Regions from separate parts of the Homo sapiens genome. Here region 2 is linked to region 1. Evidence: fine-mapped expression QTL. A gene starts in region 1. The other region holds a variant in brackets. All regions are shown on one strand. Distances are from middle to middle. Region 1 holds the start of SGPL1 (sphingosine-1-phosphate lyase 1). Region 2 overlaps ADAMTS14 (ADAM metallopeptidase with thrombospondin type 1 motif 14).

Region 1 (15,660 bases):
ATTCTGCTTGGGATATATATCCAGGCACTCTCTAAGGTCTAGGGTTGATATTAACAAAGGAATGTACTTAGAATAGCAGTACATTTTATGCAAATATGGAAATTATTTTAAGAAACAATGACATATCAAAACTGCTTTTTATTTACATGATTTTGAAATAGACTAGAAAGCTTTCCCTATAGACATATCAATATTCCAATCATAACTTTAATTCAAGAATGCAGTTTTACCAAAAGAAAAATCTGAAAATTTCTATTCAGGCTACTGGAATTGGTTATTAAAAGAAAAAGGAAAAAGAAGAATCTTGCTGCTTTCAGTATTTCCTGATTTTTTTGTAAATATAAAGAGGAACTTCAATTATGAAAAATTTTTAAAAGATATATATATCTATATATCTATATATATGTACTGTTTTGTTTCCTGTCTTGAAGATTTTGAGTTATGGTTATTGGTTTCAGATTGATTAATTCACATATGCTGTGTTTTGAAATGAGATCCCATTAGCTTTTTTTTTTTTTTTTTTTCAATATAAAGTGTTTTCTTTAAAAGTCTGATATTGGTTCGTGGCCTAGTGCCTTGGATTTTACATATTTTTCTTTTTAAATGCAAAACCTTTTCAACAAAATAGTGTTTGTCATCAGGTTGGTACTAAACATTTATAATTACTGTGTAATTATAAACAAAAATACATAAAGCTTTGAATATAATTATGTAGGATAAAAGTTAAGGTTGTTCACTATGATGGCATCTTAGAATTAAACAAAACTTTTACTAGGGCTGAAAAGAGAAGACTGATTTAATGTGGTGTGATTATTCTGAAGATAAATGTCTGGCTACAGGGAATATTTTGTACTAAAAAATGATTACACATATGGCTGTGTGTGTTTGAGTCTGTGTCTGTGAGAGAGCCAGAGAGAGTGAGAGAGATTGACGGAGAAAGGGAGAGACACACACACGCCCCTTGAATTGCTTTAACTCCTAAGTGTTTCAGTCCTCATTCCGGTAAACTCCCCATGCTGATTCTTTGTTTTAAACTGAACCATAGGTACAGTTTCCTTTTTGCCAAATGTCAAAACAGGTACAAATTTTAAAATGTAATGCTTTTTAAATAGAAAAATGTATAAAATTAGAAGTGCCCACATATAAAAAATACTTGAGATGAAGATTATCTTTAGTGAATATCATCTGCATATCTCTGTAAGTTCAATTGTGTTTCTTACAGTCCCTGTCATATTACCAATAGAGGCAATAAAAGCTTCAGTGAAATTGCCATGACAAAAAAAAAAAAAAAAGAGTGATAATGGCTCTCCTATTGCTAGCTAGCCCTTAGATGTTTCACCTAGATGTTTTCCTTAAACCTGCTCAGCCTTGAAAATAGTCCCTTGATCCCTTAGTACGCTGTTGGATTATGCCAAGATATGACTGATATATCCACAAACTACTCGCAGCCTTCACCATTCCATCTTCTCAGAGGGCCCCTATCTCCCCTTCCCCCACAGCATGGTTTTTATCTCAGTAATTGGGTTCTGTACATTTACACATACAGACTGATTCACATCAATTCCCTATGGAAATTCTTAAACCCAGGCTGATTCTCAATTCTGCCACCAATGTGCACAAACTGTATATAATATTAGATTGGGTAAAACCTAATTAAGAAGGTAAATATTACTAAAAATTCCTGACACATAGACTGAAAAGCTAAGTCAAATACTGGGATTTGGATTCTATCTGTTTATAACCCTCTTTTCCTTTAAACCAAAGGCTGTGGAAATTATTACAGCTCTGTTTCATCTATAACACTGGGAGATTGCCAAATACAGTGTTCATCCTGCAATGGCCACTCAAATGTCAACAAATTTTTTAATGTCCTATCAACAATCCCAATGAATTTTCCCTTTCTTCTAGCAAATCCTACAAACAAGACACAAGGCTCAAATAATAGAACAGAGCTCCTAAGGTCAATCTTTCAGTTTATTGCTTAAATCCCACTTGAGATTCAGAAAGAAAGCATCCCTGAAAAAGAGTCAAGGGTCACAGATAAAGACGCTCAAGGACCTGGAAAGATTCAATTTTTGAACCCAAAAAACAAAACTGAGGGAAGCTTGCTGTTTGCAAATCAAGAAAAGAGTGGTGCAGAAATGTTGCAAAGGACAGCATTTCTTAAGAATTCTGCATTGCTATAAAAGATCAGCTGCACCATCTCCAATATATATTCCTGAGCAGCAAGGCTTGACCCATGGGCAAAATAACCCCAAGTGAGACAATAACAGACACGTTAACCTCCAAGAAGGGAATCACTCCCCCACCCATATGAAAGCATAGACTACACAGATATCCAGGTATCTATGGTAAGAAACTTCATACCAGTTTCTCAACCTCACCACTATTGACATTCTAGGCCAGATAATTCTTGTTTGCAGGAAACTGTGCGTTGTAAGGTGTTTGGTTGCATCCCTAGCCTCTACCCACTAGATGCCAGCAGAACCCTTCAGGTGTAACAACCCAAAATGTCTCTAGGCATTGTCAAATGTCACCCAGAGGGCAAAATTGCCCCTGGTCAAGAACCACTGCCCTAGATAAGCAATTATCACTCAAACCCCACCTAGCACTACCAGGGTGCACACGCTAACCTTGATTCATCTATGAATATCAGCTAATTTAGTCATCATTTTCTGATGAGAAAAGAAAAAAGCCACCTAAGGGGTAGACTGGCTTTATAAAATACCTTTTTCTTAAAAACTACAAATATTTGGCAACTTGCAAAGTGATACCACCCTCTAGCACCAAGGAGGAGAGTATGAATAAAAAGAATGGTTGCCAAGGGGGAGAAAGGCTGCTACAAAGCTGTCTGACTTGAATTCCCTCTGACATCATCACAACTCTCAGCAGATGAACATACTCATTTTATTCTCTATGAGACACAGGTGGAAAGTACTGCAGTCTATGACACATCACATACGAGCAAATGGAAAAAGGCAAGCAAACTATCCTAATCAAATGATAACAAAATTGAGGGCAGGAACACACTGAGGGCTGATAGCCCGAGCCTGTCAGTCTGGATTCAAGGCTTGTTATATGTGGACTCCAGGTCATCTCCAGGTTTTCTCTCACAGCATACTGTCCACACAAGTAGTCTTCAACTCTATGACCCAATGCCCTCTTTTTATAACAAATATTCTGTAATCCCTTTTGCTACTCTGACATGGCATTTAAAGATTATAACACTATGCCTGCAGATACAAGTTTTAAAATTTCAATATAATTCATTAAATGCGACGTAAAAGAAAATAAAACACAAATTTTTTTTTTTTTGAGACAGTCTCGCTCTGTCGCCCAGGCTGGAGTGTAATGGTGCAGCTTCAGCTCACTGCAACCTCCACCTCCCGGGTTCAAGCAACTCTCTTGCCTCAGCCTCCTAAATAGCCGGGAATACAAGTGTACGCCACCATGCCCAGCTAATTTTTGTATTTTTAGTAGAGACAGAGTTTCGCCATGTTGACCAGGCTGGTCTAGAACACCTGGCCTCAAGTACTCTGCCCGCCTGAGCCTCCCAAAGTGCTGGAATTACAGGCATGAGCCACCACGCCTGACCCAATAAACAAGATTTAATAATAATTTAATAATAAAACATGTATTTTCAGACTACACTAGAAGAAAAAAGACTCCCTCCTCCCCCAGTCCCCCATTGCCAAAGTGCCCCCTAGAGGGTGGAGCTATCCTATCCCATCTGCTCCACACAGACCCTCTCCCATCAGTCACAATGGTCAGCAACCTCTACCCTTACCAGGGGTAAGGACACAAAGTAGGCAAGAGGGAGGGATCTGAAGTCAGACCAACTGAGGTCAAACTTGGCTCCACCACTCAACTGCTGTAGTTACTCTCTATAAGCCTCGTTTTTCATCTGTAAAAGAAGGATACCAAAAGGTTTTTGTGAAAATTAAATAAGTACAGTATTCCTACACTTAACATGTAATACATGCTCAATAAATGTTAGCTATCAGAGTTAACATTACTATTCCTGAATCCACCTTGTATTGTTTCCTAGCTTTTGCTCACTTATTCCATTAGCAGAAAAGACGGGAGACTGGATATCCATTTACCAGAGATACTCTTCAACAGATTCATGTATAATATAAGCTGCATCACAGGCCAGGTACAGTGGCTCATGCCTGTAATCCAGCACTTTGGGAGGCCAAGGCAGGCGGTTGGATCCCTTGAGCCCAGGAGTTAGATACCAGCCTGGGTAACATGGCAAACTACCATCTCTACAAAAAATAAATACAAAAATCAGCCGGGCATGGTGGCATGTGCCTGTCGTCCCAGCTACTCAGGAGGCTGAGGTGGAAGGATCATCTGAGCCTCAGAGATTGAGGATGCAGTAAGCTGAGATCATGCCACTGCACTCCAGCCTGGGCATCAGAGTGAGACCTTGTCTCAAAAAAAAAAAAAAAAAAAAAGCTGCATCCCATGACTTCTAAGACTATTTCTAATTCTGAGATGCTGCACTGCACTGAGGTTATTTTTTTATTCACTTAGGTCCTTTCTTCCCAGGTGGAGGGCCAAGAACATGTTTTACATATCATATAAAGTAGCTTGAGAAACACCTCATAGAATGATGGGTTAGTGTGCCACTGAAAACCCAGCCATGGTTATTGGTTCTTTACCAGTTAGTTCCAAATAGCATTATACATTACAGTCAAGGAATGAATGACAACTTTTCCAGTGAAAGCACTTCATGCAACATGTATGTTGTCTTCAGAAAGTGATGACTGCCTAGGGCCACTCGCATCTATGTGGATTAATTCCTTACAGCAACAAGCAAAGCAACACTCCTAAACATTCTAAATTAACAGGTGAGGAGGTGAAAGGTGGTGGCAACAGCTAGAGAAATACCTCAAAAGAAAACTGATTCCAAAGTTAATATTCCGAGTAAAAGCAGTCATTGTTCTGTTAAAGTAAATGCATAGGCCCTATAAGTAATAACCATATCTCTGTGCATGGGGAAATATCTTACATATAAGAACCTATAATTTACATAAACATATCCTTCTGTAAGAGGATAAACAGAAACTGTCAATTGCTACAAGTCACTCTGCATTAACCATCCAAGATGCTCACAGCGGTTATTTCTGGGTGATAAATTACTGCACGGGGTAGAGGCGAATGAAGGGGATGTAGGAGATAGGGGAGATTAACAAATCCCCTTTCCTTTTGCTTACTTATAGTTTCCAGTATTTCTAACATAATGGTCTTTGAATAAGAATTTTAAGTTATATAAGGGTATTAATTAAAACTGAAAAATCCATGAAATTTGGGGCAAGATACTATTTTAGATGAACTTTTCATTGGGATCTGCGGATAACCTAAGTATTCATCTATGTCTCTCACATACAACCTAAAATTATCCTAGATCCCTGCCTCAAATCACAATGGATCAAAACTTAGTTTCTCTCTTCTTTAGCCCCCCTGCAGACCTTACAGGTTATGCCACTACGATGTCAGCACCCAGTATAAGGAAATCTCACTACCAGTTTTTGCCAGTTTCCCAGTGACGCCAACCCACCCTCTGGGATAGTGAGATAAAGAGAGAGAAATGAATTGTTTTTAAAGCACTGATTTTGCACTCAGAGAAGTGACAAAAACAAACAAACAAACAAACTTGGCTGGACACGGCGGCTCACGCCTGTAAGTAATCCCAGCACTTTGGGAGACCAAGGCAGGTGGATCACCTGAGGTTAGGAGTTTGAGACCAGCCTGGCTAACACGGCGAAACCCCATCTCTATTAAAAAACAAAAATTACCCAGGCATGGTGGTGTGCACCTATAATCCCAGCTACCCGGGAGGCTGAGGCAGGAGAATCGCTTGAACCCGGGAGGCAAAGGTTGCAATGAGCTGAGATTGTGCCATTGCACTCCAGCCTGGGAGACAAGAGCTAAACTCCATCTCAAAAACAAACAAACAAAACAAAACAAAACGAAACAAAAAAAACTAAACCCGGACACTTTTTCTATACCACCATTTCAAAGCTATAAACTCTCCATAATTCTCACACTAAGAAGTCCATAAGGAATCATAAAAGTCCCAAAAATAAAATGTCATTTTGGTAAACATGCATTTAGCAACGCTATTCTTCCCTGCTCAGTAAAACAGCACAGAAAGATCTCAGGAGGAGAGGAAACAGCTCTAAAGCAGGCATACCTCTCTGTCCAACAAAAGAACTTAAATTCATACTGGTTCAATCCAACAAGCATTTGTTAAGCACATACTATATTCAGAGCACCATGCTAGGTGTTTATTCATCTCTAAACAAAGAAGACATGATTATCTGCCTGTCGAGGAACCATAACTCTAATCTGGAAGACAAACACTCAGATAAACTAGTATATGGCAGACCCTGATAAAACGTAATAATAGAGGTTTCAAAACTGCTCTGGTAGTACGGGAAGGGAGGGATTAAAACTGCAAGAATTATGAAAAAGAAAGCCAGGAGAGGTGACCTGTGCTCCTAGTCCTAGCTACTCCAGAGGCTGAAGCAAGAGGATCACTTGAAGTGGGAGTTCCAGGCTACAGTGAGCTATGATTATGCCTGTAAATAGCCACTGCACTCCGGTCTGAGGAACATAGCAAGACCTTGTCTCATTTAAAAAAAATAATAATAATTTTGAAAAAGATTCTTCAATAATTTAAGTTCTACATATACTGTATTGATGTATTTAATTCAGCTATTTATTCATCCTGATCATTCATCCAAAATAAAAGGTGGTTGGCCAGGCGCGGTGGCTCACGCCTGGAATCCCAGCACTTCGGGAGGCCAAGGCGGGTGGATCACCACAGGTCAGGAGTTCAAGGCCAGCCTGGCCAACATGGAGAACCCCGTCTCTACTAAAAATACAAAAATTAGCCGGGCGTGGTGGCGTGCGCCTGTAATCCCAGCTACTCAGGAGGCTGAGGCAGGAGAATCGCTTGAACCCAGGAGGCAGAGGTGGCGGTGAGCCGAGATCATGCCACTGCACCCCAGTCTGGGCAACAGAGTGAGACTCCGTCTCCAAAAAAACAAAACAAAACAAAACAAAATAAAAGGTGGCAAAACGCTCAGCTACCAAAAGCAAGCATCAGAGGTGAAATCTACACACTGGGATCCTTTGGACTAAAAAAACGGAGACAAATGCCTTGGAACCAGGAGGATGTCTGCAAAAGGCTCACCAACATCAGAAGGTCTGTGCTAGGCATCTTCCTCTTCCAGCCTCCTCTCCGCGCTCCCCTTTTTCAGACTCTGTAAAAGGGAACCAGGTTTGTTTACTTCTAGAGCTTTAAACTGTCTCGCCAGCCCGCCTAGATTCGCCAGAGCAGCCAAGTTATGGTTCTCTCCCTCCTTTGAAGGCTCAGATTTCATTCCCAGATATCACAGTCCACCCCTAGCACCCCAGACCAGCGAATCAAAATCCTGCTGCAACTAGGTTTCCCTCCCACAGCTGATGAAACTAATCCAGACCCAGACTCCCACAAAGCATTCCACCCAGGTGGAAACTAGGGGAAACGCCCCGTCTGCGCGCGATCGGGGTGGGGAGCCCAGCCCAGGCCACCTAACCCGGGCTGAAGGTGCCGAGGCTACCAGGGTCCTGCCTCCTCCGCACTCCCTTCAGAATCAGCACGGCCTCGCTCTCGTTGTCACCCCTCCCGTCGGAGGACCAGCAAATCCTGGCCGCCCATGCCTACCCCGCGGCAGGCGTGGGCTCCAGACCCGCCCCACCGCGGCCCCGCGCCCGCCCGCCGTCCACTTGCTTGGACCTCAGCGGCTGGTGCCCACGCCTTCAGCCCGCCCCCGCCCCCGCCCCGGCCGCAGCCGCCCCGCCGCCTCTGCCCGCCCTCGGCCCACCCGGCCCCTGTCCTCTCCTCACCCCGCGGCGCCTCCGTCCCGACCCTCACCGCCCCCCGGAGCCCGCGGCGGCCCCTCCACCTCCTCACGCCGGAACCAGCTTCCAGTCTCCTTCCCTCGAGCACCCGGCCGGCTCCACCTCCTGCGTCTCCCTCAGCACGCGACGGACTCGCAGGCCGCGAGACCCAGGCTCCCCTGTTGCCGCCGCCGCCGCCGAGATTGGAGGCCCGGCAGCCGCCGGCCTCGCCCCTCCCGGAAATGGCTCCGGGGGCACCGGCCCGGCTCCCGGACCCTGGCGTGCGCGGCCCCGCTGCTACCAGCCGCGCGCACGCCCAGACCCGGGCCCCACGGCCTGTGCGCGCCGCCTACCGGCCAGGCAGCGGGCTGCACCCAGACCCTCCAGTGAATGTCTCAACCAGGCCGTCCTGGGGCGGCTGTGGTATCCCGACGGTCACCAACTTCTCTTCCAAACTGCCTTGGACAAAAAACTTTCTTGTCACATTTGGTCACTTGGAGCCTCCTGAGAGAGTAGGTCTGCAGGGCATTGTACAAACTAATCCAAAACAGCCACAGAGTTGGGTCTCTTTCCTGGGCCAGGGACTTCATTTTTCCATCGAGGTCAGTGGTGCCTGAAGAAAAGCAACAAGGAAACTTATTTAATGGAAATATCATCCTCATCCTCCCCTCCACCACTGCCCCCCCCCACCCCAAAAATAAAATGGAGAGCAGAGGCTACTCTGCCATCACTACTTTCATGAGCAGTGCTGGGAATCACCTTATACACAAGTGCAAGGGCCCACTGGGATCACAAAGGTCGCCTTCATTTCCAGATGAAAAAACTAAGTCTCAGCTGGGTGTAGTGGCTTACATCGGTAATCCCGGCACTTGGGGATGCTGAGGCGGGAGGGTTGTCTGAGCCCAGGAGCTCTAGATCAGCCTGAGCAACATAGTGAGACCCCCAACTCCAAAAAGAAAAAGAAAAAACTAAGTCTCACATAGGTTTCCCATGACTTGTCCAGGTTGTCATAACATTGCTTTAGTGGTAGCAGAAGGCAGTGCAGTTACATGGAACCAACTGGTCAGTGACCTGCATTCAAGATTTTTTTTCAATAGATTTTAAAATGACACCTAGATAGACTCTTGAAATCTCTCAAACAAAAATGACACTAATGAGGGTACCCAATTCCATCCCCTTGGAAAATGTTGCCATGACACTAAAATTAGGGCATCATCACTACCGTCATTATCCACATGTAGTGCTTTCAGGATGAAATGTACTATCACAGCTGCCCTCCTCTGCATACCCCATCGGCACTTCCCACTTCCCCAGCCATAATGGTTAAGGCCCTGAAAGACTATGAACAGGTTATCTTTAGGCCTCCTCACCCCCATTCCGTCAGAACTCCCAGACATTTCTACCATCCAGAGCCCCTGACTCAGGCATGAACACCCCCATACCCTTAGCCCCCTCACTACTATTCCCCAGCAGACATGCATTCTCAGTGTTTGAGGGTCAGAAAATGTTCTGGGGCCTCCTGCCAATGCCTACTCATCAAGAGTTGCTTTAGGGTTTCAGGTATGCCTTCCCATTCTCCATCTCCTACCCTTCTGCTTTAATTCTTCATCAGATCCCCCAGGAACTGCACACCTCCTCTCCATCTCCTTGTTAGTTACCACCCCCACATCCTTTAATCTAGAATCTGTGCACCCAGATGACTAGAGGGCAGGGTCACGTCTGATTCCTCCCTACACCCTAACACACAGTATGCAGTCTGCTCATTCTTCCCAGATGCTCAAACCAATGCAATCATATCGACTGATCCTTGCTTTGCCAAGAACTATGCTAGGCACCTTTACATACAAGCCTTATTTATGGCCTGACTTGCCCAGATCAGGTGACTCTTATCATCCCTCAACCTGTAAACAAGGACACCAAGACCAAAGAAGGAAATGATCCTCCCAAAGACACACAGGCAGGATGGGGTGGAGTTTGTGTGGGAGTTTGGAGGGGAAGCCAAGGGTTCAGAATTTGTAGCGGGGACCTCGAATATCCTTTTTGGTTAATTAGAATCAAAAAATGGTAGGGCTAGAGGGGTCTCCAGCTATTCGCCAGCTCCACCCCAGAGAATACACAAATACACGTGAAGAAACTGAGGTCCAGAGAGAGATGCGACTCCTAGCAGTTCCTGGCAGAGCCCAGCCTAGAACATGGGTCTGGGTTTGCAACTCTCTGAGCCGATGAAGCCCTGTGTGTGTGTGTGTGTGTGTGTGTGTGTGTGTGTGTGTGTGTGTGAGAGAGAGAGAGAGAGAGAAAGAGAGAGAGAAAGACTTCAGACCACCCTGCTCTCCTACCCCACACTCCCTCTGACAGCAGAATGACGTTAGCAGGCACATAGCTGGCTGGTCAGAGGCAGAGGAGGGCTATCTGGAACTTCCATTCTGAAAGTGTGGTTTCCCTGAGAGCAGCATTGGCTTTACCTGAGAGCTTGTTATAAATACAGGTTCTTGGGGCCCCACTCCAGACCTCCTGAATCAGAATCTACAGCTTAACAAGGTCCCCAGATGATCTTAATGCACAAGAAAGTAAAAAGCACTTCCCTAGACACTCTGTTTGCAGAGAAAGCACAATTTTTGTTTGCTTATTTAGAAACATGGTCTCAATAATGTTGCCCAGGCTGGAGTGTAGTGGCTATTTACAGCCATTATCATAGCTCACTACAGCCTCAAACTCCTGGGCTCGAGCGATCCTCCTGTCTCAGCCTCCTGAGTAGCTGTGTCTACAGACACATGGCACTTTGCCCGGATAGAAGGCACGATAGTTGTATTAAGCGTGTGGGTTGTTTGGGATGGCTTAAGGAGGCTGATGAAGAACGTGTTTGTTTGGGGCTGGGGAGGGAACCAATGCTCCCCAGTTGTCCTTTGGTACCATCATGGTGCCTTCCAGGATGACAAAAGATTGTCATTCAGGTGTCAGTGAGGCACTGAAATTCCCGCAGATGACGGAAGGCTTGGGACGGGGGAGGGAGGTGTGGAGCAAGATGGTCTGGGATTTTTTCCCTCTGTGGCTTCTTTAATTTAGGCTAGGAGGATCTCCCTGCAGTGCTTGTGCCTGCCATCATTTAAACAATTCATGCCAGCAAATCTGGTTCTGCTTAAAATGGCAGCCATCCATGGCCAAGTTAATGACAGCCTCCCACTCATGCATGAGTGCACACTCCCACTCTAAAAAGCAGGCGCACACACTCTCCTGCCTCCATTCTTGCTCCTGACACCCCTTGCTCAGCCGGGGACCTTCTTGAGAAGCTCACCTCAGGACAGGGGTGTGGGCAGATCTTAGGAGGGTTGCAGCCTCTAGGCCCATCCTGGAAAGGAATGGCCCACAGGAAACCAACAAACAGTTCCTAGAGCCCAGAATGCCCAAGAAGAGGCAGGAAACCAGCACATAGCTCCAGCAGCAGGCTCAGCTGATCACAGCAGAGCTGGCCACCAGGGGAGGAGAGGCCAAGGGCCAGACAGACATGGGAGCCCCCACAGCAGGGACCAAATGCCCCGACATTGCCAACTGGAGTGAGCAAGGGGCAGCAAGTCACCGAGTTATCATGGGCCCCCTGACCTCACTCAGGTACATACCCCAGTTGCCAGTTTGATCAAAGTCAGAGTGGCCAAGCCCTCAGAGAGCCAAGAGTTATTTCCCAAGGAAACCTCATCTTTCGTAAAGAAGCCCACTGATAGGGTTTGACTCTGTGTCCCCACCCAAATCTCATCTCAAATCATAATTCCCATGTGTCGAGGGAGGGAGGGTGATTGGATCATGGGGGTGGTTTCCCCCATGCTGTTCTCATGGCACTGAGTGATTCTCATGAGATTTGATGGTTTTATGAGTGTCTGGAAGTTCTTCCTTCGTTCTTCTCTCTGCTGCTGCCTTGTGAAGAAGGGGCTTACTTCCCCTTCACCATCCGCCATGATTGTAAGTCTTCTGAGCCCTCCCCAAGCCGTGTGGAACTGTGAGTCAGTTAAACCTCTTTCCTTTATAAATGCCCCAGTCTCAGGGAAGTTCTTAATAGCAGTGTGAAACGGACTAATACACCCACCATTGTTGCTATCCAGGCTGCACAGTCACTCCTAGCAAAACATTAAAAACTGAGAGCAGCTGTTTCTCAAACACTGAATAAATATAAACTTCCTTTGACAAAATAGCTTTGAAGGCAGGGAGACAGGTCTCTACCCAGGAATCATTGTGTGGCCTCAAAATAGCTTTGAAGGCAGGGAGACAGCTTTCTACCCAGGAATCATTGTGTGGCCTCCAGCAAGTTGTTGTAACTGTCCAAGCCTGGGCTTCCTCCTTTGTAAAGCAAGAATTAACAACTACCCTAAGACTGCTGTGGCAATTGTAAGAGATGTATGTGTGTGCCCATCACATATGAGGCCTGATCCACCATAAGCACTCAATAATTATTACTATTATTATTATTATTAATTTATAAAGACAATGCCTCACTATGTTGCCTAGGCTGCTCCTGGGCTCCAGTGATTCTCCCACCTTAGCCTCCCAAAGTGCTGGGATTACAGGTGTGAGCCACCGCGCCCGGCCAAGAATTATTGGTCTAACACCCTCCGCATACATCCAGGGTGTACTCAAATAAGATTCCAATCTGAGCCGTGTGATTGACTAAGCCCAGCCTAGCCCTCTCACATTGTTGCTGGAAGCTGGTTTCGATCCCCATCAGGACCTGATCCTAACAAGTTGATTAGTCCTTCCAACGTGCCCCTTGCCCTCTCTAGGGCATGCTAGACCTTTGCAAGGCTTGTCTGAGAGCTACAGATCTACTGTTTTCCTGCAGGTTTTATTGCTTGTAGATCAGTAAGTCCTAAACCAACCAGATCCAACACCCCTGTTTATAACAAATATTGTTTTGTAACTCTCTTTTACTATCTTGAAATCAATATAGCACTATAATTTTAAAAGGGAATGTCACGATAAAATCATACATGAAGTTGGCAGAGGCATGGACTTACAATGGATATGTTTGCATTACAGGAAGGCAATATTTAATTGAATAGTGCTGTCACTGCTTTCTTTATATTTGACATTTTGACATAAGGACTAAATTAGGCTATTCATAGAATTAGATACAATCATCATGGATAGGAAAGCTGCAGATGCAGACCAGTATAGAGGTAGTGTCTTAGTGACTCAATTACTATGTGAGCAGCATTGCCATGGATGATGTGATTTTACAAAACTGTGGCTTAAGGTCGATAACGTTTCAGACAAAATGCAGGACAATTTACACACAGCTCTCAACATGGTAGTTGTACTCCAGGTAGGTTGTGCAATAAAATCATGTGTTCTTTTTTGTTGTTGTTGTTGTTGTTGTTTGAGACAGAGTCTCACTCTGTCGCCCAGGCTGGAGTGCAGTGGCACAATCTCGGCTCACTGCAACCTCTGTCTCCCCGGTTCAAGCGATTCTCTTGCCCCAGTCCCCCGAGTAGCTGGGATTACAGGCGCCTGCCACCACACCAGGCTAATTTTTGTATTTTTAGTAGAGACAAGGTTTCACCATGTTGGCCAGGCTGGTCTCGAACTCCTGACCTTAGGTGATCCACCCGCTTCAGGATTACAGACATGAGCCACTGCACCAGGGTGTTTTTTTTTTTTTAAACGTACATGTAAAGTGAAGTTGATTATGGCTCATGTGCCTATGAACTAGCTTTTCACCTCTATGAATATTCTGACAGTACATTCAAAAGATGTACAGGACTCAGGACAATTCTTCAATGTGATGGGATGCATCCCTCACTAAGAACAAAGAGGGACCTGCCTGTTGCCCCTGCCTGCAGCACCTGGGGGAGAGAGAAAAGTCATCATGGGCCTTATTTCTGCCCCAGGGACTGCAGTATTCCCCTCACTGAATGCCAGAAGCACCAGCCTCATCATTATGACAACCAAAAGTTTTTTTTTTTTTAATTTCCAGGGTGCTCCCTAGGGAGCCCAGCTGCCCCAGTGAGAGCTTCTCTTGTGGACTGATGACAGGGATACACTCCAGCACAAGCAGCATTTTAATATCTACAGCTGAGGATTTGTCAAGCTAGAAGGGACTTAAACATCATCCAGGTGCCCATCTAGCATGGATAGTCAGCATCTCCAAGGAGCCTTTCAAAATCCACATGTCAGGGCCCTCCTGCAGATGGAAGGAATGAGGTGTGAGGCCCAGTCATCTGTATTTTGTACATTCCCGGATAAGAGCTGCAACATTCTAACCATTCTCATCTCTTTCTAAGTCTTGGTCTTGCAGCTAATGGGGGCAGAACCTAGAATTCCTGACATTCCAGCCCCAGAAGCCCAGACCCAGAAAACACAGTGAAGCTTGTGGGTTCTTGTGGGGCTGTTGGGACGCTGTGCTGTGGGGCTTTGGATGCACCATTGACTCTCTCTGGGCTTCAATTTCCTCATCTCAAAATTGGGTAGAGAGGGGAAGCTGTTCCACACCTCTGTCAGTCTAGAGTTCTCTTTGGCCCACTGGGGTTCCCCTTCCCAGAATCTTCTGTTTGGTAACTCCATCTGTCTGTCTCCAGGTGCCCAGGAAGGGCCCTCTGTCTTGTGGTTACTTGGTCAGGGAGTGTTTGTCCTGGCCCTGCTGTGAAGGATGAACATGTTGCCAGAGGGCCAGGCCCTCTCCTGAGTGTTGACACAGATAGGACATGATGAAGAGGCCCAGCCTTATATAAGTCGTGGGTAGACAGAGGACCAGTGGGGTAATTTCAGCCCTTGGCCCAGGGTTGCTCCTTGCCTGGCACTGTAGAACTGGTTTCCAGGGTTGACTCAGAGGGGCTGGGCACCACCTGTATCCTCAGCTCAGAGGTCAGGGTAGCCGGGGGCGGGGGGGGGGCACCCTAATTCACAAGGGATGAAGAGCTTTTTATGTCTGAAAACTGAATGAAAGGAATTTCCTCTAGTCAGTGACTAAGGACAGAATATTCTCTGTGCTTGGGGGAGTGACCTAGGCAGAGGGATCAAGGACAGCTTGAGCTGAGAACACAGCAGGAGCAGGAGCTAGCCAGGCAGAGAGGGGCAGGAAGAGCGTTCTGGCTGAGCAAGTGCGGAGGGCCAGTGTTGGGGCAGGAGAGGCCAGGCCAGTGTGGCCAGAGAAACAAGCCTGAGGGGGACGGAAGGCAGAAGCTGGCATGCAGGTCAGTAGGGGCAGGCATGGCAAATACACATGCCTTCAGGGGCCCAGGCAGGCAATGTGACTGCTACAAATTGGGAATGTAGGCTTCAGGCTACATTCATTCAACATGCATACAACTATTCAATGCCAGGTTGCAATATTCAGGACCTGGGATGGATCATTGAGCAAAACAAAGGGCCCTGCCCTCATGCAACTTACATTCCAGCAGAAGGAGACAGACTAATAAACAGAATAAATAAGTAAACTATATGGTAAGTTAGGAGATGCTTGGGGCTATGGAAAGAGAGGAAGCAAAGCAATGTAAGGGAAGCACAAAGTATGGGGTTTAGGACAAGATGTCATGGATACTGCAATTTTATTTATTTATTTATTTATTTATTTTTTGAGATGGAGTCTCGCTCTGTCATCCAGTCTAAAGTGCAGTGGCGCCATCTTGGCTCATGCAACTTCCACCTCCCAGATTCAAGCAATTCTCCTGCCCTAATCCCAAGTAACTGGGATTAGAGATGCACATCACCACACCTGGCTATTTTTGTATTTTTAATAGAGACGGGGTTTTACCACATTGGCCAGGCTGGTCTTGAATTCCT
Region 2 (15,660 bases), 130 kb after region 1:
GAGAAGAGAGGACTGGAGCTGGAAATTGTGAATAAGGTTGCCAGGGAGGACGTCGCTCTGAAGGTGACATTTGAGTGAAAGCCTGAGGGGTCTGAGGGGCAGGCCCTGGCAGTCCCTGGGGAGGAATGTTCCCTTCAGGGAGGGCAGTGAGGAGGAGCGATGGCGGCCCAGGGCCTGGCTGGCTTCTCTGGGAGGAATGCCGCGAACCATGGAGGACTCGGATTGTAACAGGACTGCCCAGGCTGCTGTTGGCGAATACACTGCAGGGGCAAGGGAGCGCAGGAAGGCGAATGTCATCATCTGGGAGAGACAGGAGGTGGCTCACACCACCCCAGTGCTGGTTATTCTTATTATGCTGTGTTGGTTTCCCTTTTAGAATTACCAGCAACAAAAATCCCCACAATGGAGCCACACAGGACCCGTTCTGTACCAGAGCCACAGTTCCCATGGGCCTCCGCGCCTTCGCCCCTGCTGTGCACCCCACTAGGAATGCCCCTTTCACCCAGCTCGAAGGCCACCCCATCACTGCTCCCTCCTTTGTGCTCTGTGGTGGTGGCTCTTGGCAGGTGCTCTATCCCTGTCCAGGTATCTCTGTCCTTCTTCTAGACGTGAGCTTCAGGGGGATGAACTGGTTGGTGCTGCACAACTGACTTTGGAATGAAACCATGCTAAACAAGCATCCTTCGGGTCAGGCCTTAAAACAAACTCCCTTGGGTATACCACCCTTGTGAGAGATCCGCTTCCCCAAAACTGTGGCCGTGGATTAGGGGACGGCATATTTTACCTAGCATCTCCCTACGCGGGGACTATGAATTTTGAAGTGACAAAGCCTCAAAGGCACGATGCACCCAGGCCAGCAGTCGGCCAGGCTGTGGAACACAGGCCTCTTCAGGCTGGAGGAGCTAACTCATAGAGTGTGGGCCCCTGCCAGCCTCAAGGGGTGGATGTGAACCTCTGCCTGGGGGACGGGAGTGGCTTGGAGGGGAAAGTGGCAGGCTGTTTCTGGACAGACCAAAGGTGTAAATATGTGGCTGGCTTAAAAGCAAAGGCTCTCCCTCTCCCTCCCCCTCCCCCTCCCCCTCCCCCTCCCCCTCCCCCTCCCCCTCCCCCTCCGGTCTCCCTCTCATGCGGAGCCGAAGCTGGACTGTACTGCTGCCATCTCGGCTCACTGCAACCTCCCTGCCTGATTCTCCTGCCTCAGTCTGCCGAATGCCTGCGATTGCAGGCACGCGCCGCCACGCCTGACTGGTTTTGGTGGAGACGGGGTTTCGCTGTGTTGGCCGGGCCAGTCTCCAGCCCCTAACCGCGAGTGATCCGCCAACCTCGGCCTCCCGAGGTGCCGGGATTGCAGACGGAGTCTCGTTCACTCAGTGCTCAATGGTGCCCAGGCTGGAGTGCAGTGGCGTGATCTCGGCTCACTACAACCTACACCTCCCAGCCGCCTGCCTTGGCCTCCCAAAGTGCCGAGATTGCAGCCTCTGCCCGGCCGCCACCCCGTCTGGGAAGTGAGGAGTGTCTCTGCCTGGCCGCCCATCGTCTGGGATGTGAGGAGCCCCTCTGCCTGGCTGCCCAGTCTGGAAAGTGAGGAGCGTCTCTGCCCGGCGGCCATCCCATCTAGGAAGTGAGGAGCGCCTCTTCCCAGCCGCCATCACATCTAGGAAGTGAGGAGCCTCTCTGCCCGGCCGCCCATCATCTGAGATGTGGGGAGCGCCTCTGCCCCGCCGCCCCATCTGGGATGTGAGGAGCGCCTCTGCCCGGCCGAGACCCCGTCTGGGAGGTGAGGAGCGTCTCTGCCCGGCCGCCCCATCTGAGAAGTGAGGAGACCCTCTGCCTGGCAACCACCCCGTCTGAGAAGTGAGGAGCCCCTCCGCCCGGCAGCTGCCCCGTCTGAGAAGTGAGGAGCCTCTCCGCCCGGCAGCCACCCCATCTGGGAAGTGAGGAGCGTCTCCGCCCGGCAGCCACCCCGTCCGGGAGGGAGGTCGGGGGGGGGGTCAGCCCCCCGCCCGGCCAGCCGCCCCATCCGGGAGGGAGGTGGGGGGTCAGCCCCCCCGCCCGGACAGCCGTGCCGTCCAGGAGGGAGGTGGGGGGGTCAGCCCCCCGCCCGGCCAGCCGCCCCGTCCGGGAGGTGAGGGGCGCCTCTGCCCGGCCGCCCCTACTGGGAAGTGAGGAGCCCCTCAGCCCGGCCAGCCACCCCGTCCGGGAGGGAGATGGGGGGGTCAGCCCCCCCACCCGGCCAGCCGCCCCGTCTGGGAGGGAGGTGGGGGGGTCAGCCCCCCGCCTGGCCAGCCGCCCCGTCCGGGAGGGAGGTGGGGGGGTCAGCGCCCCGCCCGGCCAGCCGCCCCGTCTGGGAGGTGAGGGGCGCCTCTGCCCGGCCGCCCCTACTGGGAAGTGAGGAGCCCCTCTGCCCGGCCAGCCGCCCCATCCGGGAGGGAGGTGGGGGGGTCAGCCCCCCGCCCGGCCAGCCGCCCTGTCCGGGAGGGAGGTGGGGGGGTCAGCCCTCCGCCCGGCCAGCCGCCCCGTCTGGGAGTTGAGGGGCGCCTCTGCCCGGCCGCCCCTACTGGGAAGTGAGGAGCCCCTCTGCCCGGCCAGCCGCCCCGTCCGGGAGGGAGGTGGGGGGGTCGGCCCCCCGCCCGGCCAGCCGCCCTGTCCAGGAGGGAGGTGGGGGTGTCAGCCCCACGCCCGGCCAGCCGCCTCGTCCGGGAGGGAGGTGGGGGGGTCAGCCCCCCGCCCAGCCAGCCGCCCCGTCCGGGAGGGAGGTGGGGGGGGTCAGCCCCCCTGCCCGGCCAGTGGCCCCGTCCGGGAGGTGAGGGGCGCCTCTGCCCGGCCGCCCCTACTGGGAAGTGAGGAGCCCCTCTGCCCGGCCAGCCGCCCCGTCCGGGAGGGAGGTGGGGGGGGTCAGCCCCCCCGCCCGGCCAGCCGCCCCGTCCGGGAGGTGAGGGGCGCCTCTGCCCGGCCGCCCCTACTGGGAAGTGAGGAGCCCCTCTGCCCGGCCAGCCGCCCCGTCCGGGAGGGAGGTGGGGGTGTCAGCCCCCCGCCCGGCCAGCCGCCCCGTCCGGGAGGGAGGTGGGGGGGGTCAGCCCCCCCCGCCCAGCCAGCCGCCCCGTCCGGGAGGTGAGGGGCGCCTCTGCCCAGCCACCACCCCGTCTGGGAGGTGTGCCCAACAGCTCATTGAGAACGGGCCAGGATGACAATGGCGGCTTTGTGGAATAGAAAGGCGGGAAAGGCGGGGAAAAGATTGAGAAATCGGATGGTTGCCGTGTCTGTGTAGAAAGAAGTAGACATGGGAGACTTTTCATTTTGTTCTGCACTAAGAAAAATTCCTCTGTCTTGGGATCCTGTTGATCTGTGACCTTACCCCCAACCCTGTGCTCTCTGAAACATGTGCTGTGTCCACTCAGGGTTAAATGGATTAAGGGCGGTGCAAGATGTGCTTTGTTAAACAGATGCTTGAAGGCAGCATGCTCGTTAAGAGTCATCACCAATCCCTAATCTCAAGTAATCAGGGACACAAACACTGCGGAAGGCCGCAGGGTCCTCTGCCTAGGAAAACCAGAGACCTTTGTTCACTTGTTTATCTGCTGACCTTCCCTCCACTATTGTCCCATGACCCTGCCAAATCCCCCTCTGTGAGAAACACCCAAGAATTATCAATAAAAAAATAAATTAAAAAAAAAAAAAAAAAGCAAAGGCTGACAAAGGCCTTCAGCCACCCGTTGGGAACAGAGTTTGCATTCAGACCAACTTGGTCCTAACAAACGATCTCACCTCCAGACATTTCTCTAAAAAGGGGCCTGTTCTACTGCCCCATCAGCCATGCTACTGAAAGCAGAAGAAAATTAGACTGCAGGGTTTTTCAATGTTCCATGACAAGTAATGTGTACATAACAGCAGCCCTCTCCCTCTCCAATATTTTGAAAATGGATAAAACAGCAGCACTGGTGACTTGAGTCTGAGAAACACCAGAAGGTTCCGTTTGAGCATCAAATCCCACTAACTGGGCCATTGACATCTGTTTTTCTTAGTTGGCCTCCCAGTTTCAGAGAAGACAATGACACGCAGAAGTTAAGCAGCCCTCCCCCTCATAGTGGGAGCCTCATAAACACCTCTACTCAGTACCCCCAGGCCCCTTCACCTCCCACCACCATTAGACCAATCACTTTTAGCATTAATCATTCTGAAGCTGTTGCCACAGCTACCATATCACGGGACAGCACACAGTTTACGACCTTGAGTTTCTGTTCACATACGCTTGGCCTTTCCACTGACAGGAGAGGCTGCCTGGAACTGCGAGAGGAACATTGCCTGGGAGTCAGGAACCTTGGTCCTTGCGTGCCCTGACACCTGACACTCACCTGCTATTCCATGACCCTGGATCTCCTCCCCAACTTGAGCCTCGGCTTCCTCTACTGGAAAATGAAGAGGGAGCTAGAGGGCCCCAAAGCCTTTTCCAGCCACAGCTGTCTCCAACTCAGGCCAAAGTCAGGGCGAATGGTGGAAAGTACGCTGAGCTGGGATCCATGCAGGTTTTCATAACACAAGGGTATCTGCAGGTGCCTGAGCTTATGTTGACAGGGAGCTCCTTGGTGCTGCTAAGGATGAAGCAGCATGTAAATATTATCACTGTTGTTGTTTTTAGGGCTTTGAAAGCAGGGCAAGACCCACATGCTGAAAATGGAATGCTGGGCCTGGTGGATGGTTTGGGAACTTTCCACTGCAGTGCCTGGGAATGTGGAATCTCCTGGGCCCTCACTGAGAGCCCACCCTGGGCCTGTACCACCCTGGGGCTGGAAGGCACATGGAGAGACAAGCACAGCCCCCATCACTCTCACCAGCCTGCTAAGCAGCCCTCAGGCCGCCCTCCCTCCAGCCAGTGCCTGAAGACACAGAGGAAGAAAAATAAAACCAGCCCTTGCTGGAATGGGAGGCCGGCTCTGCTCCGGAGGAGCCGCAGTGAGGTGATGTCTGGCTTTTATTCCATATCATAAATAAGTTATTAATCCAGGGCAGACAGTGAAGCATGGTCATGAGGAGACAAGGGAGGTAAAACTGCAAGATCAGACTGGCTGGAGGACTGGAAAACCACCCAGGACCCAGGACCCAGGACCCAGGACCCAGGCCCGGGGCCTCTGCTCAGACAGACAGCGGCCCAGACAGGAGGGGGCCTCTGGAAAGCAGGGGGAAGAGCCCTGGCATGGGCGCCCAGAGAGCTGGAGACAAACCTGCTGTGGATCCTGCCTCAGTTTCCTTATTTATTCTAAGACATCAGCAGGAAGAAGAAGAAATGCTAACTTTTATTTCTCCAGGCACTGTGGCAGCACTTTAAGTGCATAATTTCTAACCCACAAAACTACAAGGTAGGGACACCCACTTTACAGATACATAAACTGAGGCTCAGAGACGTCAAATCACTTGCCTAGGGGCAATGTGGAAGAATATTTGCAAAGATGGCTGCAACTTGTCCTCTTGTTTCTGTGCACCATCTCTTTACAATGAGACTTTACCACTCCTTCCCTCAAATGGAAGAGTCCATTTCCCCACTCTTGGAAAATTTTGTCCAGCTTTATGGCCTGCGTTGACCAGCAGAAGGTGCAGAAGTGATCTTATGCCATGATATGGTTTGGATCTGTGTCCCCACCAAATCTCATTTCAAATTGTAATCCCTAATGTTAGAGGTGGGGCCTGCTAGGAGGTGATTGAATCACAGAGTCGGTTTCCCATGAATGGTTTAGCACTATCTTCTTGGCACTGTTACCGTGACAGTGAATGAGATCTGGTTGTTTAAAAGTGTGTAGCACCCCCCTCCCCTGCTCTCTATCTTGCTCCTGCTCCCGCCATGCGAGATACCTCACTCCCCTTTGCCTTCTGCCATGATTGGAAGTTTCCTCAGGCCTCCCCAGTAGTGGAAGCCGCTATGCTTCCTGTACAACCTGCAGAACTGTGAGCTGATTAAACCTTTTTTCTTTCTAAATTACCCAGCCTCAGTTATTTTTTTATAGCAGTGCAAGAATGAACTAATACATGCAACTCCCAAGGCTAGGCCTCAAGGGGTATTCTAGCTTCCACCTTCCCCCTGTTGGAGTGCTACCCTGAGACGGCCTACTGGAGGATAACTGGCCACAGAGAGAACTGAGGCCGCGCGGCCTACAGCCAGCACCATGCTGGTCATGTAAAAGAAGCCAGCTTGGGCCTTCCAGCCCAGCCCACCCTTCAGCGGAGCACAGCCACGTGAGCAGGCTGGAGCAGGCAGGGGAGGAACCAGCCAGCCCACCCACAGAGTTGTGAGGAAGGACACAATGTTGTTTTCAGTTCCAAGTTTTAGACTGATTTGTTACACAAGAATGATAACTGATAGTCACTCAGTTTCCCACCCTGCCTATTTCCCCAGGAGAGCCTGTGCTGCCCACCTCCTGGAATTTGGCTGGGATCAAGACACTCCCATGCAGACCACAGCCCCTCTGTGTCCTCCAGGCCCTCACATTGCCCCAATCACGAAGCAGTGACTTCCTCTTTCCACACTGAAGACCCACAGTCACCCTGGCAGGCGGGTCAGGAGAAGCCCCCTTTCTTTCCAAAGACTCCCTTTCTTGTTTCGTGTGCTGCAAACACAGATTGCCGAGAGGTACCCAGTATTTCCCAGGAAACCGGGTTATCTAAGTGGCAAACATGAGAAACCAGCTCCCACTCTCAGAGAGGGTGTGCACCCTGAAGACAGAAACTTGCTCACGAAGGGAGTGCTGAGGGCGGGGAGGTAAACGGGTTTCCCCTACACGCCCACTCGGCCCACGGAGAGTGACTACGTGAGCACATGCAGGGGGGTCTGAGGCCCAGGGACAGCGTGCCACAGCGGGCCTGCAGGGCCTGCCAGGGCGCAGGAGGGCAAATGGCAGTGTGCGTGCCTCAGCAGTCACCACCTCTGGCCTAGGAGCAGATGGCCAGATAGCCACGGAGAGGACGACAAATGCTGTCCCCTCATCTAACTACAGGAGTTTATGCCTCCTCACCCAGACGGTTGTCCGGCAGGCCCAGTGCTGGGTCATGAGGACACATAGGTGACCACACTCTGCCCTGCACCTCTGGGAACTACAGGTGGGAATGTTCAGGGCCAGCAGCAAACTGAAGGAGAAGCAAGGTGCACCCCGAGAAAACTAACGGGCCTGAGGGGGTCCAAGGCCAACACGGGCTCTGTGTGCCCCACTGAAAACCCAGAGACCCCTCTGGGAGTGGCAGCCAGAAAAATGGGGTGCTCTTGACTTCTTTCCTGCCACCATCCCCTCAGACCTGGTAGACTCAACCAACCAGTAATCCACACCATGTAATAGCAACAGCTGAGTGTACTGGGGACTGCACTAAACCCTTTACACACATGACAACTGTATGAAGTGATTACTATTATGATCCCCACTTTCCAGATGAGAAAACCGAACCACACAGAGGTGAGCTAACTGCTCAGGGTCATGGCATGTAACAGGCAGAGCTGGGATTTCAGCCCAGGCGGGCTGGTTCCAGGGTCACACTCACCCCCCAGCACATGCTGCTGAGCTCACAAGCAACCCAAGGCCTCCAGCTAACAGCCTTGCTGGGTTTGGTTCATACAATGGCTTAAGAATTACCTAAAAATCCATATTTCCCATTTCTCCTACAATACTCAAACCTCTTATAATACCAGAGTGACACTGGAGTGGGCAAGTCCTCTCCCTTTTGCCATAATCCCACCCCCTATGACTACCCGGTCCTCTTCTCTTTCTTCTGTTACCTGCTTACTCCTGGTGCATCTGAAATTTCCACCTCCTGCCCCTCCAACCCAGGGGCCCAGACTTATGCTCAATGCTCCAGGAAATGCACACATTTAAGACAGTCTCTGATTTCTAGGAACTGGTAGTTGAAATGGGACATACATCAAGTGAGGGGACAGGGAAGGTGTGAACAGCACAGCCAAGGGAAGGGGCTGAAAAGTGAGGCGAGAGCAGGCCAGCCTGGACAGGGCAGGGGCGGGGACAGCCATCTGTGAGCTGGAGCCCATAAGGCTAGAGAGGCAGGTCAGCAAGGCAGCAAGGTCTGCACCAATGTGGGGCCACACACAGGGCTCTGGTGCCCCCTGCCCCTCCCAGGGTCTCTAGGCACACATGTGTGAGGGCAGGAGGCCTGCAGGTCAAGATGTAAGGGGACAAGCCAGCTGGGTGTCTGGGAGGGGGTAGGTCACAGTGAGACTCCAAGCCTCCACACTCCACACCTCCAAAGCAGGGTGGAATGTGGAGCCGACCCGCAGCTTCCCAGGGCGCCCACAGGACGCCTACTCACTCATCCAGCCAGTCAAGAGCAGCCCCCGGGGCAAGGACAGGTGTTTGGCACAGGAGACCAAAAAGCCACAGACAAGTCTGCTGTGCACCAGCATCGAGCTGGAAGGATGAGTGTCTTTCTCAAACACTAATGTGACTCCTGTTTACAAACCTCCATGGCTCCCCATGATGCCAGGGGTAAGGCCAAGCTCCATGGTGAGGTTGACATTTTCCAATTACATTTTCACCATTCTCCCTCTCCCACGGAGAGCTGAAATGACCTGCCATTTCCTGAATCTTGCAGAGACACAGGATTTCCTTCCCTACAGAATGACTACAATTCTCACTCCGTGGCTTTGAAAACCCCTACTGATCCTTTAAAACCCAGCCCAAATGTCCCCTACCCTGGAAGCCTTCCCTGAGCACCCCTCCTTCTCAGTACTCACCTCCAAGCCACCCCTGGCATGCATTATGCTTCCCTGTATTCCCACAAATCACTGAAGCTTAGTATGGTCTGTGTTGCTTTTTACTGTCTACTGTGCAGTTCAGCCTCCCCTTTAAACCGTGGGCTTCTGGAATACAGGGGCAGAGGGCTGAGCTTCATCCCTGCATCCCCAGGACTTGGCCAAGGGCCAGTCAGATAATGCCAATGATCTATATATCATTGCAATAAAGGGACTCTGATGATATTTGTAATATTTATCATTATTAATAATCACTGTTAAAAAGTAATCACGATTGGCTGGGTGCGGTGCCTGTAATCCCAGCACTTTGGGAGGCAGAGGCAGGTGGATCAGCTGAGGCTGAGGTCAGGATTTTGAGACCAGTGTGGCCAACATGGTGAAACTCTGACTCTACTAAAAATACAAAAATCAGCTGGGCATGGTGGTGCACGCCTGTAGTCCCAGATGCTCAGGAGGCTGAGACAGGAGAATCACTTGAACCCAGGAGGC[G/A]GAGGTTGCAGACTTTTATCCATTTTTAAGGCCCTGCCATAAACCATGCCCTACACTTTGCCTTATCTCATTTAATCCTCTGAACAACCCCATAGACAACTGTTCCTCTGCCCTTCCTACAGATGAGGAATCTAAGCATAGGGAGATGAAGACACTCGCTCAAGGTCCCACAGCTGATCTGTGCTGGAGTGAGCACATCCTGCTCTTTCCCCCAAACTAGACTATTTCCTTGGAATTACGAACACCACCTTTCGTGGGGCCCTTCCATAGGCCAGGTGCTTTTAGTAACAGGTTTATTTTATTTTTTTTATTTATTTATTTTTTGAGACAGTTTCGCTCTTGTTGCCTAGGCTGGAGTGCAGTGGTGCAATCTTGGCTCACTGCAACCTCCACCTCCCGGGTTCAAGCGATGCGATTCTCCTGCCTCAACCTCCTGAGTAGCTGGGATTACAGGCATCCCCACCATGACCGGCTAATTTTGTATTTTTAGTGGAGGCGGGGTTTCTCCATGTTGGCCAGGCTGGTCTCAAACTCCCCACCTCAGGTGATCCACCTGCCTCAGCCTCCCAAAGTGCTGGGATTACAGGCATGAGCCACCGCGCCCAGCCAGTAACAGGTTTATTGAGATATAACATACCATATAATTCACCCACTTAAAGTGCATATTGTAATTGTTTTTAGTATATTCTCAGAATTGTGTAACCACTGCCACAATTTTAAAATATTTTCAGCCTCCCATAAAGAAGGCCCTTACCCTGAAGTTCTCAACTCCCCCCGCCCCACCCCACACTGTAGTCCCATTTTAAAGACAACAGGGAGGTGCCGAAGGAGCTTCTGTGACTTGTTCAGTGGTGAGCAGCTGGGCTGGGATGCAGCCTCCCCTGCCCCTCCCAAAGCCGTCTGCCAGGGTCTACTCAGTATAACCCATCAAAAATGCAAGATCTGCAGAGAGTGGAAAACAGAACCAGATGGTGACAAATCTTACACGTGTGGCTGCTTCCGCGCCAGGCCCTGACTCACAGAGGCACTGAAGGCAAAGGGGGAAACACGGTGCAGCCAAGCTCCCGTCACCCCGTCGCAGGGCATCAGGCCCCAGGGCCTGGGGAGGCAGAGATGGCCGTAGGAGAAGCAACCCTTCAGGAGGCTGGTGGCCTGGATTCTAGATGGGCACAGTGAGCATGCAGCCCCACTGAGAAGCAGGGACCCCACTCTGCCGACCCCAACCTTGCACGCCACAACTTCTCCAGGATCCGCAAAGAACTGATCCCCACCCCATGTTCCTCCCAGGTGCAGAGTGTTAGTGGCTCTGAAGAGTGGCCCGTCAGGTCACTGGACACATTCCCAGTCTGGGACTCTCAGGTCTAACAGCATCCCAGGCTAGCTGCCCACAACCCCAGAGGAAGCACTTTGCAGGCAGGACCAGGCCCCGCCCCCACATCCCTTATTTCCTGCCCCTGGACATCCTCAAGACTGGCTGGGTCAGTCATTCTTTCTGCTGGTCAGGGGCCTGGCACTATCTTTCATGTTTATAATGTCTGAACAGTCTTGAGCAATTGCTACCTCCTCCAGGGAACCTTCCTAGATGCCCTAACCAAACTAAACAGGTCCTTCTCCTGCTGCCTCTCACTAGATTCTCAAGTTTGCTTTTATGTCTGGGTCCCCACTAGCCTACAAACCCCTCCAGGGCAAGGGCCCTGCTTTTTCATTCCTGGATCTTTCTCTTTCCCCTCCCACAGCTAGGACACCCAGAAGGCCCTCCATAACAGTGGGTGGGAAGTAAGACAAAGTATCCCATACCCCAGTGTTAGGCATGAATTAACCACAATGTAGGAGGGAGCCATCAACTACAGGTTTACAGGGGCCTGGCTCCAAACTCCAACAAGGTCAGCCCCATGCCACAAAGCACCAATGCCAGAGCTGGAAGGGGTCTGAGCTTACACATCCCAGCTTCCTTAATGCACCCAGGAGGCAACTGAGGCCCAGAGAAGGGGCCAGCTTGCTCAGAGTCACGCAGCCATTATCTCTCAACTCCCAGCCCAGCCTCTTCAAGAGAGCAACCTACCCCATCCCTGCCCCACACCCCTTCTTCCATCCTGCCCTTCCTTCAAGGTCAGACCAAGCCCCCCTGCCCCGCGTGTCTTCTAGGGTCCACTCCCCAGCCCCACCTGACATGGTGCTCCTTCCTCTGCCCAACCATCACTAGCCTGCTCAAGCTCTTCCCCCTGCCCAGAAGGCCCTCCCCACCCCCTGACCCCAGCAAACTTCTACTCATCCTTCAAGGCCCAGTTCAAATGTCACCTTCTCTGACATCAAAGAAAACAATCACTCCCATTTACTGAGCACCCATCCCCACTGTGTTCTAGAAAACCAAGTGAATGCTGAAACTACTGGTGGGTTTCCCCCTGCATGGCACCCAAGTTCCTCGAGGACAGGGACCTGACTCTCTGCAAAGCAGGAGTAATAACAATATCTGCATACACACTTCAGAAGATTGAAGGAAGCAAAAGAGCTTTGTAAACTATAAAGTCCTGTACTAATGGAAGCTATCTGTATTATCTTCGTATCTCCGCCTATGACTCAGTTTCCTCATCTGCAAATGGATGGAGTTAATAAAAGCACATACACATATGCATGCTGTGTCTGGGCCACAGGAAGAACCCGTTACTGTTGCTGTCATTATCTGTGTCACTTTCATTTTCTTTATGATCTCCTGTGGACCTTGTCCATGGTCAGCACTCAGTACAAATTTTTTGAAATGAATGACTTTGGCATTTGAGATGTTAGAGAATATGGGATTAAAATCCAGAGACCATGTAAAGATGCAGAGTTCAATCTTATCAGAAATGCTACACCGTGGCCTTTGAGTCCAAAGGTGAGCTCAGCTGGGTCACTGGGACACAGCCCCTTGCTGTCACGGGACACAGGGCCATTTCCTGGAGTGGGCGGAAAGTCAAGGAATCCCAGCCTGGGGTGACCTCTGTGCCGGCGGCCCCAGTGGAAGGCAGTCAGGGAGTACCACTCCCAGGGCCTGGAGGGGAGGCGTCCAGATACTGGACTTCAGGACTGGCCTCTGGAAACAGCCAGGGTACATGTTGTGGTCCAGCCTGAAGCTCAGCCCAGTGAAGTCCATTTCTGCCCCTCACCAAGGGGAGGGGGACCCAGGCAAGTCACTTCCTAGAGCCTCAGTTCTATACCAGCTACCCAGCAAGCCTCCAGAAGCCTGTACCTGGACAGCCTCTGAGACCCGATCCGGCTTCAGCAAATGCCACACAGAATCGATTCCCATCTTCCAGGGAATATCAAGTATAGTCCCTCTTTGGACAAATGAGAAGAGTAAAGCTCAGAAATGGGGAGGGGGTGACTTGCCCAAGGTCACACAGCTAATGAGAACATTTACTCAGAGGCCACCAAAAATCAGCAACACCCTCTGAGGAATCCCCAGCCCCAGGCCCACTGAACAGCCCCACCTCCACCATCCGCCAGCCCCCAAAACCAGAGCATGAAGACTTGTCACCATATATGCTACACCACGTAGCCATGTGATCGTGCTTCAGGAGTGCTAGCTCAGGGTCCTTCAGGGCCCTCCCTGGTCCCTGTGGCACCTAGTGGTCAGTCACTACTTGTCAATGGGCTGCTGAGCTGGTTCAATGACAAGGGAGGTTTTCAGGATGCAAAGGGGGTGGGGAGTCACTTATTATTAGCGACGGTCATCCTCAGTTTAGGTTCTCACCATATATTGAGCATCTCCTCTGTGTCTCGCTCCAGGAGGGCAGTCAGAGAAGCTGGAGCCCTAGCCCTGTCACTGAGGAGCTTACAGCCTACCTGTGTGATGACTTTAGAAGGAATTCACCATCTAATTCAGTTCAGCTGCTGGCTTGCACCAGCACTTTCTCTCTACCTGCATGGATACTGTATCCCTGGATGATTCCTAACATCACTTGGGATTTTCCACCAAAACTTGTGGCCATGGCATAGCTCTAGCCAGCGGGGTGACCAAGGGCCCCTGTGGCACAGAGCCGCAGAGCCAGAGTGGGCTGGCGGCAGAGGCTCAGCCCAGACACCTGACAAGGCCTTAGGCTCCCCCAGCTGCCCTGACAATCTGCTTTCTCGAAGTCCGCTCTCAGGAACTCTTGAATCAGTTCACCTGCAGAGTTTGGTAATGATCAGATCCTGGTCCCTCCCCTGAGAGGCAGATTCTGCGCACCTGACAAGGTGCTCAGGTGATTCTAGTGCATGCTCAACTATGAGAACCAACTACCATGTAGATAAGCCCTCTCCATGAGGGCCCTACCACCTTCAATGGGATGAAAATTTATTCTGGGGAAGGCAAAAATATTACACCTTTGAATATATAAAACACAGATGGATATTCAGTGTATAAACAGATATTCAGTATATCTGTGGTATTAAAATTGCATGAGGAAAGCCAGGCACAGTGACAAGCACCTATAGCCCCAGCTCCTGGGATGCGGAGGCAGAAGGATGGCTGGAGGCCAGGAGTTCGAGGCTGCAGTGCCCTGTGTTTGTGCCTGTGAATAGCCACTGCACTCCAGCCTGGGCAACATAGTGAAAATCCACCTCTAAAAAAAAAAAAAAACCTCATCGTGGGGTAGACTGATGATTGGGAGGAAATGTCTAAAACATTTAGGGGTACATCATGATAAAAGGTGGAAAGCACTGGCCTAGACAGAGGCAGCCACGAAATCAGCAGATAAGACATCTCCTACACATGAGACAATGGTGACAAATGCTCCCCACCCTGCCAGTGAGGAAGGAACCCACAACCCCTCCCCATCTCAAATTTTCTCGCTCTCAAAGCTGAAGGGCAGAGGAGCAAGCGGGCCCCTTCTTGAGACCCATCAGCTCACATCTGATGTCTCTGGGGCAGGGAAGAGCTGCCCAACAGGACCTTGAGGCTGCTGTGCCAGCTCACAAGGGCCTGCACACTGAGGAGGAGCAGCGAGGGGAATGAGAGCCAACCCCAGGTGGGGGCGAGAAAGACAGCCCACCCCATGGCTTTCTGGTTTGCAATGTGGAGCCAACTAGCAGAGGCGCTCCCAGACTCTGGGAAGCATTGCGGAAGCAGTGGGGGTCCTAGGAAAGGGACACACAGAGCAGCCAGGAAAGAGCAGGCTGGCTCTGGGAGGAGAGACAGGGAGGAGAAGAGGAAGGACACGACGTCGCAATGTTACAAGACATAATAGCAGCCGCTAACTGTGCCCACGCCACGAGCCAGGCAGGGACAGCCCCCAGTGCACTGCCCAGTTAGGCAGGCCATATCATTAACACTCGCGGGTCAGCTCCAGGAGAGCAGAAGCCACGTCTGTCTCAGGCACCACTGTACCCCCAGCATCTAGAACAGTAAATATGTGCAAAATAAATAAGGGAAAGAACCACAGAGAGGTTAACTCATCCAAATCCTCACAGCTAGGCAGTGGCTCAGCCACACTTCCAACCCCAGTGTCTCTCTGCACTCAGAAACACCAGCCAAACAGCTTGTGATCCAGCTGGGTCCATGGAAGGCGAGGGGTGAACATCATCCCAACTTGGCCACTTCACACCTGGCAGCGCATGAACCTAGTGGCCCGCGGGGGCAGGCGGCACTCCCTCTGGAAGGCAGCACCACCCCTGCCTTGGCCCAGACTGCAAAACATGCCCATAGCAATCTCAAAACCATGTGAGCAGGGCATGGGAGGGGGAGGATGCAGCTTAATGAAAGTCTCATCCCTTACCAATCCGTCACAGTTGCTGATGGCAACAGCTGCCCCAGGCATTCCAGTGACACCTCCAGTGTACACACACTCCTGCCGTAAGGGCTGCCGGAACAGCTCCCGAAAATCCTCCTGCCACTCCACTGAGGATCCTGGCACTACCAACCTCCGATTGGGCCGCAGGCGCAAGTGCAGTTCCTTCCCGAAAACAGTGACATTGAAGTAGAGGGAGTGGCGCCCCACCCTGCCAGGCCACAGGGTCCCTCCTGGGTGCAGAGGGCTGCGAGCCACCCGGAGGTGACTGGAGTGTCGTGGTAGTGTGGGTGGCGTGTCCACTACCATGCTCCCTGCAGAGGCTGCTGCTGGGCCAGACACCACGTGGGAGAGGAAGCGTCCCCGAAAGTCTGTGCTGCAGGGCACTGTCACACCATAGTCACTGAGCTTTCCAGAGAGGTGCAGCTCTGTTGGAGGTAAACAAAGAGTCACTTCAATGCAGTCGGTTCAGAGGTAAGGGGAAGTCAGAAATCCCACGCGGGCAGGGAGGGATAGGAACTCTCAGTGTCACCCTTAGGTGGGCCCCTTAGCCTGAGTTCACCCATTTTCCATCCATTGCTTCCTGAGCTCCAGGATTCCTACACTTGGATGAAGGGTGTTCGGGTACCTTGTGGCACTCCCTGTAGCCCCCAGGTCCTTTTTAAACTTAGCAGAAGAAAGCAAATG

What was found.
Region 2: its variant is fine-mapped to the expression of SGPL1 in whole blood (INTERVAL, PIP 0.94).

The regions. Positions count from the first base shown.
Region 1 is chr10:70,808,428-70,824,087 of GRCh38, reverse strand. It overlaps SGPL1 (sphingosine-1-phosphate lyase 1), which reads right to left and starts at 8,140. Exons shown (of 15, transcript NM_003901.4): 1 at 7,962-8,140; 2 at 7,208-7,277. The coding sequence starts at 7,234. RefSeq lists silencers at 7,725-7,834, 7,915-8,004, 8,025-8,344.
Region 2 is chr10:70,674,297-70,689,956 of GRCh38, reverse strand. It overlaps ADAMTS14 (ADAM metallopeptidase with thrombospondin type 1 motif 14), which reads right to left. Exons shown (of 22, transcript NM_080722.4): 2 at 14,962-15,401. Among named protein-coding and RNA genes, the nearest start is that of ADAMTS14, 9.6 kb to the right of the region's middle. RefSeq lists enhancers at 1,130-1,774, 6,503-7,348. The variant G/A (reference allele first, on the strand shown) is at 9,230.